Linked DNA regions of Homo sapiens. The protein of the gene in region 2 purifies or fractionates together with the protein of the main gene of each other region. This does not show direct contact. Each region holds a gene or a part of one and is shown on either strand. Other genes may lie near its edges.

Region 1 (3,752 bases), on a different chromosome or scaffold from region 2:
AAAAACTAAAAATAGAACCGCCCTTTGATCCAGCAGTCCCACTACTGGTATCTACCTTAAGAAAAAGTAAGCATTATATCAAAAAGACACCTACACTTGTACATTTACCGCAGCACTATTGACAATAGCGATAATGAATGGAATCAACCTAAGTGTCCATCAATGGATTATTGAATAAAGAAAATATGGTATATATACCATGGAATACTACTGAGTCATAAAAAAGAATGAAATCATGCCTTTTGAAGCAACATGTATGGAACTGGAGGCCATTATCCTAAGTGAAATAACTCAGAATGTCAAATACTGCAAATTTTCATTTCTAAGTGGGAGTTAAACAATGGGTACACGTGGACATATAGAGTGGAATAATAAACAGATATTGAAAACTCCAAAAGGTGGGAGGTTGGGAAATGGGTGAGGGTTGGAAAATAACCTATTGGGTACAATGTTCACTATTTGGATGATAGTGACATTAAAAGCCCAGATATCTGAGCTTCACAATATACCCATGTAACAAAACTGCACTCGTACCCCCTGAATCTATAAGAAATAAAAATAAAGAACTGATTAATTTTATGTCAGACAAATGTCATGCCCCTAGTTGCTTTTGCACTGAAGAACTAGGCTCAATAAAACCACATACTATTCCACAAATTAACTCAAAATAAATCAACTTCCCTAGGAAAATAAAAAAATAGAACAACTGTGTCTTCACTACTAAACTCCAGAGAGAACAGACCTGCTACCATTTTATACATTTAATATATTTCAAAAGAAAAAAACTGTACAAAATATGTTCTCTAATTATTGTGGAATTAAATTGGAAACAAAAAATAATACAAATCCCTAAATGTTTATAAATTAAATACCTAAATGTAACATCTATAAACCTTTAGAAGTTAAGCCACACATATCTTTTTTGTGTGTTTGGAGACAGAAAATCCTTCTGTCACCCAGGCTGGAGTGCAGTGGCACAATCTTGGATCACTGCAACCTCTGCCTCCCAGGTTCAAGCGATTCTCTTGCCTCAGCCACCAAGTAGCTGGGATTACAGGCGCTCACCACCACACCCGGTTAATTTTTTGTATTTTTAGTAGAGATGGGGTTTCGCCATGTTAGCCAGGCTGGTCTCGAACTCCTGAGCTCAGGCAATCCACCTGCCTAAGCCTCCCAAAGTGTTAGGATTACAGGTGTGAGCCACCACGCCCAGCCAAGCAACACATTTCTAATAAACCTATAGGTCAAACAATAAATCAAAAGGGCAAAGATAACATTTTTCCAAAACATTTTTAAACAGCTTTATTGAGATATAATTCACGGCTAGGCGCGGTGGCACATGCCTGTAATCCCAGCACTTTGGGAGGCTGAGGCGGACAGATCACTTGAGGTCAGGAGTTCAAGACCATCCTGGCCAACATGGTGAAACCCCGTCTCTACAAAAAATACAAAACTCAGCCAGGTATGGTGGCACACACCTATAGTCCCAGGTACTTGGGAGGCTGAGGCACGAGAATCACTTGAACTTGGGAGGTGGAGGTTGCAGTGAGCCGAGATTGCACCATTGCACTCCAGCCTAGGTGACAGACAGAGACCCTATCTTTAAAAAAAAAAAAAAAAAAAAAAAGGATATAATTCATAATTCATATACCATATAATTCATCCATTTAGGGTATATAATTTCAACTATTTTTCACATAAAGATATGTGCAACCATCAATAGTTAATTTTAGAACATTGTGTTATGTCAAAAAGAAAACCCATGCCCTTTAGCTATCACCTCCCCACCTCCCTTTTCGCCATGCTCCCCAACTCCAAGCAACCACTGAACCCTAAGCAACTACTTTCTGTGTCTACAGATTTCCCTATTCTGGAATTTCATGTGAATGGAATCATATAAATGGACTTTTTGTGACTAGCTTATTTCATTTAGCATAATGTTTTCAAAGTTCATTGAGGTTGTAACATGTAATCAGGATTTCAATCCTTTTCATGGCCAAATAATATTCCCTTGTATGGATATGTCCAGTTAAAAAAATCCATTTGTCAGCTGATAGACATTTGGGATGTTCCCATTTTTTTACTATTATGAATAATGCTGCTATAAACAAACATACAAGTATTTGTGAACAAGAGCAAGTTCACTTTGCTCTTGGCTGTCAACAAGCAGAAATTGCTGGATCATATGGTAACTCTATGGTTAAATGAGGAAAAAAGAGATACGTATTTTTAACTGAATAAAAATGAAAACACAACTTATCAACATCTGTGGCATGCAGGTAAAGCAGTGCTTAGTGGGAAATTTATATTTTTAAATGTTTATATTGAAAACAAAGATCCAAAGTCAATCTAAACTTCTACCTTTAAGAGCTAGACAAAGATAAGCAAATTAAACTCAAAGTTTAAAGAGCAGAAATCAATGAACTAGAAAATGGGCAAACAACAGAGAATTGCCAGGGAAACCAGACAATGGTTGTTGTAAAAATCAACAAAAATTTGAAATAGATTATAGAAATAAACATAAATATTTAAAAATATCAAAGCTGAATTTAGGGAAATAAAATACATTCTTTAAGCAAGAAGAGGCAAGGGTTTCTCAGGACACAGAAAGCATAACCATAAAAGAAGAAAATAATCAACAAATTATACACCTAATGCAAAGAAAAGCTTCTGTTCATCAAAAGGTATAATTAAAAATATGAATATGCAAAATCACAGGAAAATATACTCATAAATATTTGTATATTCTAGAAATTCCTGTATTCTAGATACGAATCTGACAAAAGATTTGTATCTAGAATATATAAAGAACCCCAACTCACTATTAAGAAGGCAAACAATCCAATTTTGAAGACTGGCAAAAGACTTGAACAGAGATTTCACAAAGATAAACAAATAGCCCATAAACACAAGAAAGTGCCCAACATCATTGTTTATCAAGAAAATGCACATAATAAACTAAAATGAGACACAAGAATAGCTAAAATGAAAAAGAGTGGCAATATCAAATGTTAGCAAGGGTGAAGAGTAACTAGAACTTTCATACCTTACCTGTAGGAATGAAACTAATACGACCAACTTTGGATATTTAGTAGGTTCTCATAAAGTTAAATATAAACCTACTTCTGAACCAACAATTCCACTTTTCAATGTCCATCCAAGAGAAATGAAAACATATGACCATGAAAAGACCTGTGCAAAGTATTCAAAGCAGCTTTATTCATAAAAGCTATAAATTGTAAACAACCCAACTATCTATCAACAAGGGAATGGATCAACAAATTGTGCTATATTCACACAATACTACTTACCAATAAGAAGGAACAATGTACTAAACAATATAGATAAATCTCACAGATACTATGGCAATCACAAATCATACTGGACTCTTTCTTGGTTACTTGATAAATTTGGCCTTTCATTGAGATTTAATCTTTCAAATGTATATGATACTTTCCATTCTGGTTGACTTAAAGCCAAGGTTCTACTTTAACCCTTTCCTCTCCTACTCATACTTACAGAACACACACAGAAGAACATACACAAAACTTAGAACTGTTAGCTTGCTTTACACTTGCAGAATATCAATATATCCACGTTTTCCACAACTCTAACTTCTCTCACTATGTTAAATTTGGCTAATTTCCAGGCAACTGTATATTCTCATTTTAAAAGGAGAGAAACATGGAAAGAAAATGTATTTGTTGAATCTTCTCACTGGCAAACACTCATCCGTATTCCTTTACAGCTCC
Region 2 (3,752 bases):
GATGACAACCAGCGTGTTGAGCCTGAATGGTACATTCCTATTATTCCCATGGTGCTGATAAATGGTGCTGAAGGAATCGGTACTGGGTGGTCCTGCAAAATCCCCAACTTTGATGTGCGTGAAATTGTAAATAACATCAGGCGTTTGATGGATGGAGAAGAACCTTTGCCAATGGTAAGTATTCTGTGTGTGTTAAGAGCCTTAACTTTTCCTTGGGTTTCAGTTGAATAGATTGTATGATTAAAGATGATGCAAACATAAAATTTAATTTCATACTTTAGATTTATTGTTAAACGCTGTTGTGATTTCCGTCTAGTATCACATTTAGAAAACATACTGTTTTTTTAAATGCCAATTTAGCTTCCAAGTTACAAGAACTTCAAGGGTACTATTGAAGAACTGGCTCCAAATCAATATGTGATTAGTGGTGAAGTAGCTATTCTTAATTCTACAACCATTGAAATCTCAGAGCTTCCCGTCAGAACATGGACCCAGGTAAATAATTATGGATTTCTTTTTTAGGTTTGTGATCAAAAGAAATACCTTTTGTACTATTGCTGTTGACTATTCAGAAGCCTATATTTTAGAAACTTCAGGATTATTTCTTTCTTTAGACATACAAAGAACAAGTTCTAGAACCCATGTTGAATGGCACCGAGAAGACACCTCCTCTCATAACAGACTATAGGGAATACCATACAGATACCACTGTGAAATTTGTTGTGAAGATGACTGAAGAAAAACTGGCAGAGGCAGAGAGAGTTGGACTACACAAAGTCTTCAAACTCCAAACTAGTCTCACATGCAACTCTATGGTATGTATTTGTTTTGTGAGATGTACACGTTTCAATTTATATTAAAGATTAATATCAATTTTAAAAGTATATCTTAGTCTACCTTTATAAAGTTTAGCCAATTTGTCTATTCTTGGCTCTAATCTTGTTTTCCTTTTTCAGGTGCTTTTTGACCACGTAGGCTGTTTAAAGAAATATGACACGGTGTTGGATATTCTAAGAGACTTTTTTGAACTCAGACTTAAATATTATGGATTAAGAAAAGAATGGCTCCTAGGAATGCTTGGTGCTGAATCTGCTAAACTGAATAATCAGGCTCGCTTTATCTTAGAGAAAATAGATGGCAAAATAATCATTGGTATGTTTTGGGAATAATAACTGCTTACTAAAACTCTAGTTACGCCAAACTTTCTTTAAACATTTTTGGTGAGAGTAATGGTGGAGAAAGAGGCAAAATCCATTTAATTCACCTGGTCACTTATACACGCATTTCTTTAAAATATCTGATTAGGTATTTATAGTTTGAAAGAGATGATGTTTCCTTGACTGAGCATCTTGAGAAATCAAGATTTAGTTGACAATTAGACATGAGGAGAATAGAGAGCTAGAAGACCTTGCATAAACTGATTGACCAAGAGAATAGATACACTAATCATGTCTACAGGAACAGAAAATAAAAGAGACAGAGAAGAGATAATAAATCTGATGGTAAAAAAAAAAAAAGGCAGGAAGATTACGAATGGCTTCTACTCTCTGGGTGTGGTGGCGCATGCCTGTAATCTCAGCACTTGAGCTGGGGAGGTCAAGGCTGCAGTGAGCCTAGGTAGTGCCACTGCACTCCAGCCTGGACACAAGAGTGAGAGAGACCCTGTCTCCAAAAAAAAATGATTTGATCATATATGATTTGACTGCCCCCTTGTGGTAATTTACATTTGTCAATGGTTTAGGGAGACTTGCCTGTATACCGGGATATACAAATTTATGCAAGCACGAAGACAGTTTAATTTCCAGTTTTAAACTTTTGACTTGTGTAAAACCTTATCCCCTTCCTAAAATATTACTCAAAATCATTATCTCTGTTTACTTTTTTAAAAATAGAAAATAAGCCTAAGAAAGAATTAATTAAAGTTCTGATTCAGAGGGGATATGATTCGGATCCTGTGAAGGCCTGGAAAGAAGCCCAGCAAAAGGTAATCTTGGGTGGCACTTTTCTATATTGTTAAAGACTATGTATTGTACAATGTTTATGTTTCACATTTTCTAATAAAGCTAGATTTTAATTAATCCTTTAGGTTCCAGATGAAGAAGAAAATGAAGAGAGTGACAACGAAAAGGAAACTGAAAAGAGTGACTCCGTAACAGATTCTGGACCAACCTTCAACTATCTTCTTGATATGCCCCTTTGGTATTTAACCAAGGAAAAGAAAGATGAACTCTGCAGGCTAAGAAATGAAAAAGTGAGTTGATAGTAGGATGGTACATGCTGCTTAGTTTTGTTCTATTCTAATGGTAAAAGTAAAATTGTGTGTTGCATGAAAATGCTGCTTGTATACATATATTAACTCAATTTTGTAATTATCTTATGAAGGAACAAGAGCTGGACACATTAAAAAGAAAGAGTCCATCAGATTTGTGGAAAGAAGACTTGGCTACATTTATTGAAGAATTGGAGGTATGTAGTTTATAATGCCCATGTTAGAATTTTTATTAATGAAATAATATATTCCAGCAGTATACCTTTGTCAAGATAGTTCACAATTGGCAATAAAAAGAAAATAAGAGGCATAAGGATAAATTCCAAATAGCGTATAAAAGAACAGATTATTGGCCAGGTGCAGTGGCTCACGCTGGTAATCCCAGCATTTTGGAAGGCTGAGTTGGGTGGATCACTTGAGGTCAGGGGTTCAAGACCAGCCTGGCCAACATGGTAAAACCCCATTTCTACTAAAAACACAAAAATTAGCCAGGCATGATGGTGCATACCAGTTACTCAGGAGGCTGAGGCAGGAGAATTGCTTGAACCGAGAGGCAGAGGTTGCAGTGAACCGAGATCACACCACTGCACTCCAGCCTAGGCAACACAGCAAGACTCCGTCTCAAAAAAAAAAAAAAAAAAAAAGGGACAGATTATTAAATACTACTTAGAATACAAGGCCGGGTGCGGTGGCTCACACCTACAATCCCAGCACTTTGGGAGGCCGAAGCAGGCAGATCACCTGAGGTTGGGAGTTCGAGACCAGCCTGACCAACATGGAGAAACCCTGTCTCTACTAAAATTGCAAAATTAGCCAGGCGTAGTGGCACATGCCTGTAATCCCAGCTACTTGGGAGGCTGAGGCAGGAGAATCACTTGAACTCGGGAGGCAGATGTTGCTGTGAGCTAAGATCACACCATTGCACTCCAGCCTGGGCAACAAGAGTGGAACTCCGTCTCAAAAAAAAAAAAAAAAATACTATTTAGAATACAGTAAATGATACCAGGAGACTGCCCAGACATTCAGACATTTCTGGACAAAAAAAGAAAAGAGCAGGAGTTGATTTTTGATAAAGGGAAGAACATATTAGGACTGAGAAGATAAAAAGAGCCTAAATGTGGAAGAAGACCACCAACCCAGTCCCCCAAGTCAACTTAAAAGGACAAAGCCACAGGGCATGGTGGCTCATGCCTGTAATCCCAGCACTCTGGGAGGCTGAGGTGGGCAGATCACTTGAGGTCAGGAGTTCGAGACCAGCCTGGACAACATGGTGAAACCCTGTCTCTACTAAAAATACAAAAATTAGTTGGGTGTGGTGGCATCCGCCTGTAATCCCAGCTACTCAGGAGGTTGAGGCAAGAAAATTGCTTGAACCCAGAAGGCAGAAGTTGCAGTGAGCCGAGATTGCGCCACTGTACTCCAGCCTGGGTGACAGAGCAAGACTCCATCTAAAAAAAAAAAAAAAAAAAGGAGAAAGCAGGGC

Evidence for each region. The genes of interacting proteins can lie anywhere in the genome.
Region 1: the proteins of TOP2A (region 2) and ZNF451 purify together in Homo sapiens (affinity purification with mass spectrometry; 3 studies listed by BioGRID and IntAct, with this or other methods). This does not show direct contact.

What each region holds. Positions count from the first base shown.
Region 1 is NC_000006.12:57,142,110-57,145,861, reverse strand, and holds part of ZNF451 (E3 SUMO-protein ligase ZNF451), read right to left. Parts: intron 1-3,752. UniProt on the Homo sapiens protein: E3 SUMO-protein ligase; has a preference for SUMO2 and SUMO3 and facilitates UBE2I/UBC9-mediated sumoylation of target proteins. Plays a role in protein SUMO2 modification in response to stress caused by DNA damage and by proteasome inhibitors (in vitro).
Region 2 is NC_000017.11:40,397,272-40,401,023, reverse strand, and holds part of TOP2A (DNA topoisomerase 2-alpha), read left to right. Parts: coding exon 1-174; intron 175-360; coding exon 361-495; intron 496-614; coding exon 615-815; intron 816-956; coding exon 957-1,152; intron 1,153-1,892; coding exon 1,893-1,984; intron 1,985-2,086; coding exon 2,087-2,251; intron 2,252-2,382; coding exon 2,383-2,466; intron 2,467-3,752. UniProt on the Homo sapiens protein: Key decatenating enzyme that alters DNA topology by binding to two double-stranded DNA molecules, generating a double-stranded break in one of the strands, passing the intact strand through the broken strand, and religating the broken strand.